2 separate regions of the Homo sapiens genome follow, and region 1 is linked to region 2. The links come from fine-mapping of genetic effects on gene expression. Tissue or cell type: whole blood. Region 2 holds a variant in brackets; the other region holds the start of a gene. All regions are shown on one strand. Distances are between the middles of the regions. Region 1 holds the start of ANKRD44-AS1 (ANKRD44 antisense RNA 1). Region 2 holds the start of ANKRD44 (ankyrin repeat domain 44).

Region 1 (5,377 bases), 120 kb after region 2:
ATGCTTCCCCTTTTCTGAATCAAGAAGGCTCCTAGAATATTATGGCTAAAGGCACCTCCAGATTACCTCTCCAATCTGTCATTGTGCAGAAGGACAACTTGGCATCCATTTGCATGAGGTCTGTAGAACATGGTTCAGTACTGTCTTACACAGTTTAAGTGTTTTGTGTGGGTTAGGCTTATTTCCCCAACTATATTTGGCAGTCTTTTAGGAAAGGACTATGTCACACATTTCTTTTGTATATTTCATAAAAATAGCATATTGTAGGTACTCAGAAAATGCTTTTGGCTCTGGTAGCACTTCTCTGTGCAATGTGGATAAGCACTGATAGAGGCTTGTTTGTTGTGGTACAAACTAGAAACAACCCAAATGCCCATTCGAAGGGGAATAATTGAATATGTTATGGCATATCCATACAATGGAATAGTATTATATATAGTTATTAAGAGAAATGATTTAATCCTGTAGCTATCGACCTGGGGGATGTCCTCAGTACATCATTATTTTTGCAAATTGTAAGAGAGGGAAATAAGCCAGGCATGGTGGTATGCATCTGTAATCCAGACTACTTGGATTACAGATACTTGGGTGGGAGGATCGCTTGAACCCAAGAATTTGAGACCACCCTGGACAATATAGCAAGACCCCCATCTCAAAAAAAGTGTGTGTGTGGGAAATAGTAAAATCCCATTTTCTGATAATAAATAACGATAATCTCATATATCTGTATCTGTACCTACCAACAAGAACACGGGCTGTTCACATTTGTGGTAGGAAAGGTTATTAAGTTTTTTCTTTATCTGTTTTTGTATTGTTGCAACAGGAAACCTACTAAGATTAAAATCCAGCAAACATAAGACAAAGATAAAATGCACAGGGGTTTTGATGCATTAGGTGTTTCCCATAGTACTTCCTATTTTTCAAACTTCGTGTGATTAAAAAAGTAAGTTTTATCCCTGACTAAATTTCAGTGTGGAAATAAAGAAATAAAGATAGCATGTACTTGGCTTAGGTATACTTGTTTTGTTCTTTCAGCTCGTTACGTAAAGATACATTTTTTTTTCTTTCTCATGACATGAAGATAAGCTTTCTTCTTACCAAAACCTAAACTGTGAAGGCAGCACCCAAGCCAAAAGCCTCGAGGCTCTGGTTTCTGTGGTGGGATGGGGAGAGAAGTAGGTTGCACAGATGTAGGATGCCAGCTGACTTCAGAACTTCCGGTCTCAGAGCTAACCAGGCTCGGCAAGCCACAAGAGAGAAGGAGCTTGCATAGGTGGAAGAGCAAAGAAAGCCAGTGCTGCAGAACTTCCGGTGCTCCTCCGCCGATGTCGGGCTGGCGCTGCTCCCGAGCCCTGTGTCCTGTGGAAGAAGTTGGTGAGAATCGTTTTGAATGTAGGCAGCCACTCCTGAGGAGGCTAGCCCTTGCTACATTAAAGGTGGAGCTAGATTTACATTTTATTTTATTTTATTTTATTTTTTATTTTTCGAGATGGAGTCTTGCTGTCGCCCAGGCTGGAGTGCAGTAGCACGATTTCAGCTCACTGCAACCTCCACCTCCCGGGCTCAAGCGATTCACCTGCTTCAGCCTCCCGAGTAGCTGGGATTACAGGGGCACGCCACCATGCCTGGCTAATTTTTTGTATTTTTAGTAGAGACGGGGTTTCACCATGTTGGCCAGGCTGGTCTCAAACTCCTGGCCTCAGGTGATCCACCTGCCTCGGCCTCCCAAAGTGCTGGGATTACAGACGTGAGCCACCATGCCCGGTCAAATTTACCTTTTAGATTCACATATTACCACCAGAAGAATGCTTCCTCTGACAACTGAGCGGTACTCCATCCCCAGAGCCCTTTGTGCAGACTATTATTGCAGTTTCCTAACTTGTTATGACACTCCAGCCTTTTCCTCCAGGTCATCATACAATCCATTTTTAGAGTGATTGTTCTAAAGCACAAATCTTAGGTCACTCCCCTGCTCAAAAACCACCCACTGCTCCCCCAGTTCCACAGAAGAGAGCTCAAATTTCTTAGCTTGGTATTCAAGACCTTCCATGATAGGATCCCTGTCTACTACTCAGCTTACCTCACTTCTCCCCTCCTCCAGCCAAATGAAACTGTTCCCTGTGTATGTTCAGGCTCCCTAGCTTCTGCTCACAGCCTTCTGAATATGAAGAAGGGAAAGTCCCTTACCATTCCATCCGTCTCTACCTGTTTAAATCCTCCCCAGTCTTCAATATTCATTTCAGAGGCTGCGTCTTTCAGGAGGCCAGGTACAATTTCTCTCCCTTCTCCATGCACTTCTCCTGCGGCCTGTGCCTTACATTCTAGCTGTGCGTATTTGTATACTTCCTGTTACACCTTGGTAACCTCATCAAGGGAGAGACTGACTCTGACATTCCAGTGTCTGAATTTCTTTCTTTCTTTTTCTTTTTCTGTGTTTCTTTCTTTCTTTTTTTTTTTTTTTTTTTTTGAGACAGGATTTCACTCTGTCACCCAGGCTGGAGTGCAATGGTGTGAGCATGGCTCACTGCAGCCTCAATTTCCTGGGCTCAGTTGGTTCTCCCACCTCAGCCTCCCGAGTCGCTGGGACTACAGGTGTGCGCCACCGTGCCCAGCTAATTTTTGCATTTTTAGTGGAGATGTGGTTTCACCATGTGTCTAGGCTGGTCTGGAACTCCTGGATTCAAGTGATCCGCCTGCCTTGGTCTCCCAAAGTGTTGGGATTACAAGCATGAGCTACTGCGCCCGGCCTCCAGTGTCTGAATTTCTTATGCTCAGTAAATGTCTTATGCTTAATACATCTTTGTTGAATTGAATGTGGTTATCTGAAATGTACCAAATTAAGTTTTAGAAAACATATCTTTTATCCCCTGTTGGAGGGGGTAGTGTGTAAAGAAATAAAGGAGCTACGCACTGGGTTGGTGTCTGTGAAAGGAAATATGATATGACTTCTTTTTTTTTGCAGAATTTCCCATTTTCCCATTTTATATTATCGAATGTTTTCCAGTCTCTTAGGCTCCTCTCTCTTCCTGCTGCCTTATCCTTTCCCTTTGACATCTGTCACTGGATGTCCTTACCATGATTTTGGATGGGGAAATGAGAAGATGCTTCCTGAAAGACTACACTGAGGGGATTCTCTAATAGATTTTCATTCCATGTGACTTTTTCTGGCTGGGGAGGGAGTAGGGGACCTTCCAGTCATCTCAGGCAGAAACTAATTCAGGTCCTGATCAACCCACTGCCTTAAATTTTAGAATGGTTGCTATAACAATTTTAGAATGGTTGCTATAACAAGATGCCTTAGGAAAAAAAAAATTGACAATGGCCAGAACAGGAAGGTGACTCCGTTTTACACATGTCCCTAGTCCCTCACCTGTGGAGAGGTGGTGAGAGTTTAACTGCTTGCTGTCTTTCCAAGAATGCACGTGGAATTCAAAGAAAAGAACAGTAGAAGGGAAGGAGAGGGTTTAAAGGAAAATTGTCATGGGCTTTGGAAAGACCTGATTGTGTAAAAATTGCTTGCTGGTGTTTGGAAAGAACCCAGGTGCTAACAGATTTTAGACAAACCCAATCTGGAGTTGCCTAAATCATGAATGATTTAATGTGACTGAGTTAATCCATATATCTTGTATACAGTAGTTCCAGCCTCCTCAAATGTAGCAGGAGATTGCCACCTTTCTGAGAGTACCTTTCATTTCTACATGCTGATTTTGTTGTTGTTTTTAAAGGACACTTGAATTGCTTTATTTAGCTTCCAATTTGTGAGATTCTCAAAAATTAAAATTACTCATGACCACAAGAAGATACTTCTGTAGTTATGGATCATTTTCTGCTATTTTTTATAAGGAATACTTTTTTATTGTTGTCTTTTTTATAAGTGATGCACATACCAGGTAGTAATAAAAAGTCATGTTTTCCAGTGCACCCTAAAACTGAACTGCTGTCTCTATTTGAACAGACAAATAAATTATACTGAATATACCTACAACCCTGAAAATCATCTTCTGGCCATTTTTCTTTTTTCCCCACAAAGATCACTAAAGTGGTTTATATTGATTAACATTATTAAATCCACCTCTCATGTTTGCAACTACATGAATTCAATATGCAGTAAGATACAGTTATACAAAGAATGTAACCCAAGCCAAGATGAGAAATAAAACCTCTATACCAATTTTTCAAAACAGGAAACTGTTGCAGAAGTATATATAGTTGTTCTTTTTGTTTCACTAAAATTACATGGATTTAAATGTTCTGTATGAACTAACCTCCTGGATCCATTGTCCTTTTTGCCCAAATTAGCTTTCTTTAAAAGTTAACTCCCCAACACAATTTAATTATCTTAGCTAAAGTTTAGGTTTGATCTCAAGCCATTTGAAACTAGACAGAGTGAAAAAATCTGTGGGTAGTTGGCAGCAGATCCTGATAGAAATATGGCACTTGGCAAAGGCTGTCTGCCTTGTTTTGATTTGCCTTTCTCTTTATGGATGTGGCCTATTTTTGAAATGTTATGATTTAAATTCAGCGATCAAGTGACAAGTCTGACAAAACAGAGCTTACATCCGCAGAGGTTCTGTGGGGGAAAAAATGGAAATGTTCCAGAACTAAAGGAAGTAACCTCAGTTTCACCTGGAAACATTAGTGTTTCGGAGGCAAGGGATTTGGGCTATATATAAAGAGTGAAGGAAAGTGGCCAAGATGCTGGGCCAAAATTGCATCCAGGAATAGAGCAGACATTAAAGAACCAAAAACTATATCTGTTGTTTTCACCGTATCCCTGTAAGTAGCACCTGGGGAGACTGTGATTAAAAAAAAGATGGGAAAGTTCTTTCCTGTGATGGCTTGGATTGTAGCAACAGCCTTCTAACTGGGCCTCTAACTCCAATCTCTCCTTCTCCAGTACTCAGTGTACACTTTGGCCAGATTAAATTCTTGGGAAAACTCTATTCCTTTCTCCTGCTCATGACCCCCATTCCTGTTTGTCCATAAGATTAGGTAAAGGCTGGGTACAGTGCTCATGACTGTAATCCCAGCTCTTTGGGAGGCTGAGGCAGAAGAATTGCTTGAGGCCAGGGGTTCAAGAGCAGCCTGGGCAACATAGCGAGACCCTGTCTCCACAAAAAAATATTAAAAATTCACCAGGTTTAACAGTGGCCTGTGCCCATAGTCTGAATTACTTGGGAGGCTGAGGTGGGAGCATCGCTTGAGCCCAAGAGTTTGAGGTGGTAATGAGCTATATGATTGCACCAAAAAGATTAGGTTAAAGCTTCTTATGCTGATGTGATGCTCCCCCCACCCAGTTATTCATTTTTCTAACTTCATCTTCTATTATTTTCCAACATGAAAGATTTACTCTCCAGTCCCCAGTCTCATCCTTCAA
Region 2 (5,377 bases):
TTGTAGATCTAATCAGGGCTCACCAGAGGCTCTATATAGCATCCTTATTTGCCACAGACACTTTAAGTATCATTGGATTCCTCTGGGTCATCAAGTCCTGCTACAGATATTTCTTCTCCCCTTATTCCTAATAAAAAATTCCAGCCTTATGGGTTGCTCTATAAATGGGTCACAGCATCACACTCAGATGTGATACATATTGCCTCTAAAATCCAAGGATACCCAGAAAGTATTGTGTCTCTTTTCTTAGTGGTAGATGGTACAAGGTGAAGTAATTTGTCTTTTACGTTGGGGAGAATATCCTGGTGTTTTCTAGACCACTGGACCTCCAGAAACTTCACTAAGGTGATGAATTTTCTTGGGGTTTATACCCAATCTCTGGCTCACATGTGTGTTGTTAAGGCAGCTAAAATATTTGTTACTTCCTGTTTATCAGGGCCAGTCAGCTCGATGTCTTTAACATAGTGATCAAGACCTGTGCAGATGAGATTATGCCAGAGAGTGGGAGTGTTTACATCCCCTAGAGAAGACTGTAAAGGTGTACTGTTGATCTTGCCATATAAAAGAAAACAACTTTTGGTGAAAATTGAAATAGATAAAAAGCATTTGCCATATCAATAGTGCACACCAGGTGCCTAGGGCTGAGTTGCTTTGTTGCGGTAAAGACAGCATATATAGAATAGCAGCTGCAACTGACATTACCATTTGATTAAGTTTACAACTTAATAACAAATCATAGTTATTCTCTAAGATCTTTTGCATAGGCCCAACAGGTGAGTTAAATGGAGATGTGACAGTATTATCATTCCTGTATCTTCTACGTCTTTTCTGGTGGTACCAATTTCTACATATTTCCAGGGATTGAGCATTGTTGTTGGTTTTCTATTCTGGTATCAAGAGGAAATTCCAGAGGCTTCCATTTGGCCTGTCTTACCATAATAAACTTCACTCTGTGGGTCAGAGAAATGATGTTAGGATTCTGTTAGTTACTGAGTATGTCTATTCTAACTAACAGTTGAGGAGATAACTATAGTTTGGGTCTGCAGAGCTACTGGATCCACACTGATTTATACTTAGTTAAAAATTTCATTTATCACCTACCATAGATCCCCATTTTGATTGGTGGATCCAGTGGTGTTTGCAATCCTCAGGAATTAGCATTAATTCAGAAGCAGTGTCAGTGATCCCTCAAATGTCTGGGTATTTCCTTTTTCCCAGTACTCGCTCAGCCTAGAAAAATACATCAGGTTCCTTTGGATAAGGCTTGGATGAGGATTTGTAGTATATATTTATGACAATGCTGCAAGACCCTCCTGAAGGGGACCAGCTTCCCTTTTAATCAAGGAGCTCTGTGTCTGTGAACTCATTTAGGTACGGAAACTGAATGAAAGATAATTTCATTTTGATGGCTCAAGGGAGCTTTCAGGTGGCAGATGTAGAGTTTTGTCTGTTATAAAGATCAATGGCTATTTCCAAAGTCTGCCCGTCTATTTCATTCCTAGGACAACCTAGGGCACTGCCAGATATACCTGTAGGTTAAGACCTTTAAGTACTACTTTGTCTCTGCTGTCCATTACAGTAAATGTGTCCACCTTGTCTCTGCCAGCTAAGTGCTGCCACTTGGCCATTGCTGTCGCAGGATCCCACTAATATAAAAATCAAGGAGCCATCTCAACGAAAGCATCTCCCACCATCATATCCAGCTACTAGAGAGTTTTTCTGACGTTCTCTCTCGAATGTATTTTTCTTTCCTTTTCTTTTTTTTTCTTTTTGACAGAGTCTTGCTTTGTTGCCCAGGCTGGAGTGCAATGGCGCGTCATTGGCTCAGTGCAACCTCTGCCTCCTGGGTTCAAGCGACTCTCGTGACTCAGCCTCCCAAGTAGCTGGAACTACAGGTGCATGCCACCACGCCTGGCTAATTTTTTGTATTTTTAGTAGAGACGGGGTTTCACCATGTTAGCCAGGCTGGTCTGGAACTCCTGACCTCAGGTGATCCACCTGCTTCAGCCTCCCAAAGTGCTGGGATTATAGGCATAAGCCATGGTGCCTGGCCTGTATTTTTCAATGCTTCAGTATAAAGATCATCATCTGGCTCTCCAGGAATATGTAGGGGTTGGCTGTACAGATTATACATGATAAAATTATTCCAACATTCCCATCTCCACAAA[T/C]CTTTGGATTTCTTTCTCTACATTATACCAGGGGCATTCTGGCTTCTCAAGCTCACCGAATATAGTCAACTGCTGAGTCTGAGTCTCATTTAATGAAGTAAACAAAGTGTTTGAATCACTGTCAAAGTACTGGCTAACACATTAAAAGCAGACCTTCTGATAAGTGTAGTCTTATCAATAAATTTTGCCAAATCTTCTGCTCCCTATTTTATTTGGAACTTGGCCACGAGTTGTTCAACCTTTCACAAAGTCAGGTCACCTATGACAACACCAATCTTGATATTTGAATTCCTAACACTATATGTTCACATCTGTCTGCATTTGTAATTCTCTCATTCACAAAGCCTCTCCATATAGGTGGAAGCATCTTACTGCTTTGTTTTGTCAGAAGACAAAGAGAGTTGTGTTTTACCACTTACCTACTGAAATACATATTCATTATAAATTACTCTCCTTTAATTTTTCCTTTATTGTACAATTAGGACAATATATTGTTGCTGGTTTTTTTTTTTTTGAAATTTGTATTGGTAGGTAATATTATCCACAAATTACCTTTCAGGATAGTAAGGGGAGTGTTAAAGATACTAGTTACAAAAAGAGGATGATGGTCTGATTGGGTGGAGAACTGCTGCCTCCTCACTTTGGCCCCAGGAACTTAGGTGCAGGCATGTCCGCGATGAATCAAATTGGATCTTGAGTGAATCTTCCAAATTAAGTCATTTGTTATCACTCTTCTGAAAGATGGCTCTATTTAAGTAGAGAATGCAGGGTCCTATTCAGTTTACTTACAAAGCCATGCAGGGTGTTCAGTAAATAGACATACCAATAACAGCAGTGAAGAACTGACTCATAGATGCAACATAAACAATCTGTTGTATGTCTGAGAAAGGCCTTAGAATTTTTTGTTTGTTTGTTTCCATGCAACATTGATAACAGAGGAGTGGAAGCCAGGAACAAAGTTCCTTGGTTCTTCTTGTCTGCATGATCTGAATTATAATCTATAAGACTAATAAAGGTAAATTTGAGATTTAGCTGCTTCGACAACCAGAGTGGCTGGATGGTAAATGTGAGGATATTAATGCTCCTTTCTCTCCTGTCTCATGTGGAATCTTTGGGGGAGGTTCTAAGAGTAGGGAGGAAGAATGGACATTTGGTTTGTGAATATACAGTAGAGGCAGATGTTTGGTCTTGACCAAAGAATTCTGTAGCTCTAGTTTGCTCTTCAAAGCTGTTCAATGCTGCCCTACAGGTTTGCTCTATGGCCTGCCAGGGGCACATGGGGCTGCCTGGGAGCACTTCCTCTCCACTTGCTTACTTAATTCTCCCTTCTCCAGATCTCAACTCCTGTCACTTTCTCAGGGAAGCCTGCCCTCACCCACCAGTCTGGTCTGATTCCTTTGTTGTGGGTTCACTTCAGAAGCATGTTTTCCCTTGAGATCCCTTATCTCAGTTTGTAATTACATTCATTAGCAGAGACTATGCGGTTTATGTTGGCATCTTCTGAGAGCAGGTTATCTTATTTATGCTCTCCGTTTATTCCCGTGCCTAGCCAGTGCCTGACAAGGTAGGGACTCAGTACATAGCTGTTCAATGAATAAGTGTTTGCTCCAAATTCCAGAACTATCAACAGCTACTATGCTTACGAATATGCCCGTTGTATCTGTAGCCCATGGTGTTTGACAGCTGTCTTCTATTTGTTGAAGAGCTTGGTAACTTGGGATTTTGTAGAGATCAGTAAGGACTGGTGGGAACACCCAAAAGACCCATCAACTCGGTGATTTAGGACTGCTTTGCTTCTCCAGGAACTCCACTCCACCCCCACCAGCAAAAACCAAACCCAGGGTGTTTGAATTTAACAATAGTATGTGTGTGTGCATATGTGTGTGTGTGTTTAGCTGGAAAGTGGCTGGAGAACAAGGTGGAAGGGCCAGAGCTTCTGTTCCCTCCACCCATAAATGTTTGGCAAACACCCTGTAAAGAATCACAATGTGTCCGCTGCCTCCTGGCATTAAACAAAGGGAGCATCATAATTGCGGTCCCTGGGATCTTCGGGGCGCTGCCACCACCTGATTCTGGGTTAGGGGAAGGGGGCGTAACCCCATCTCCCCGGTTAAAGTGGACGGCATGTGAGTGAGAGCCTTTCCTGCCCCCTCGGGGTGTGTCCCCGCGGGCTTCCCCACCCATATGTGTGAGACCCGTCAGGGAGGCCCGCGATCCGCCCAGGGCCCGGGGCCGGCCCGGCCGGGCGCCGCGTGCAGGTGCGGAAGGCAGGCGGCGGCCCGGTGCGGGCGCGGGGGCAGCGCCGGGGGCCGGGCTGCGCGGCTCGGCTGCGGGCGGCAGGAGGCAGCGTCGGCCCAGGCGGCGGGCGGCGAGCGAGCCAGCGCGCGGTGATGTCAGTGGCGGCCCGGCTGGCAGCAGCCGGTACTTCCTGTGGAAAGGCGGGCGGGCTCGGCTGCAAACCCCACTAGCCAGTGTCAGCCTCTCGGCGGGAGGAGGCGGCGGCGGAGGAGGAGCAGGGGGAGGGCTGTCAAATTCGGGAGCCAGATTTTTTCCCTTCTCCTGGCAATCCCTTCCGCTTCCCCGGCTCCCGGCGTGACATCTGCGGGCCGGGGACCTGCATGTGTGTGCGCGCGAAGGAGCGGAAGAATGGCAGTGCTCAAACTCACCGACCAGGTAGCGGGCGGCGGCGCCGGCGGGCGGGACGCGCGGGCGCGGGGCGGCGCGGAGCCCGGCGGGGGGATGGGGGCGCGGCTGGAGCGCGCCCGCGAGCTGTTTACTCGCGGCGAAGGGGAGGACTGTGTGCGGCCGCCGGTGCCTCCGAGAGCCCGCGGCGGCAGCTCCCCTCCGCCGCGCCGTCCCCGCCCTGGGCCGTCGGAACTGCGCGCCCGAGTCTGGGGCAGGGCCCGTGGGCGCTGGGCAGCCGGCGTGCGGGAGTGCGGCGGCCGCGGGCCCGGCGGGGCTGGGGAGGGGGCCGGGGGCTCGAGGTGCTCTCGGGACTCGCACCGCGCCGCGTTGCGTGGGCGCCGCCGGCCCGGGCCCCGGGGAGGAGGACGCTGCACGAAGAGGGAGAAAGGATCGCAGACTGGGACCCCTCCCCAAACCTAGCAGGAGTCCTGCCCAGAATGCGGCTCTTGTGTGGCCGGGCTGTCTTTATTTATCCGTTGGATGTGACATCCGACTTCCTCTTTAGTTGCGCCAGGCTGTGTGCG

What was found.
Region 1: it holds the start of ANKRD44-AS1, and the variant in region 2 is fine-mapped to the expression of ANKRD44-AS1 in whole blood (INTERVAL, PIP above 0.99).

Annotation. Positions count from the first base shown.
Region 1 is chr2:197,194,900-197,200,276 of GRCh38, reverse strand. It overlaps ANKRD44-AS1 (ANKRD44 antisense RNA 1), which reads right to left and starts at 2,286. Exons shown (of 2, transcript NR_135584.1): 1 at 2,188-2,286; 2 at 1,004-1,359. The region is part of intron 1 of ANKRD44 (ankyrin repeat domain 44); the gene reads left to right. RefSeq lists an enhancer at 1,171-1,240.
Region 2 is chr2:197,310,042-197,315,418 of GRCh38, reverse strand. ANKRD44 (ankyrin repeat domain 44) reads left to right here and starts at 4,639. Exons shown (of 28, transcript NM_001195144.2): 1 at 4,639-4,841. The coding sequence starts at 4,815. It overlaps ANKRD44-DT (ANKRD44 divergent transcript), which reads right to left and starts at 4,353. Exons shown (of 4, transcript XR_923750.3): 1 at 2,721-4,353; 2 at 1,102-1,230; 3 at 935-950. RefSeq lists silencers at 4,324-4,403, 4,414-4,733, 4,784-5,163 and an enhancer at 5,287-5,377. The variant T/C (reference allele first, on the strand shown) is at 2,169.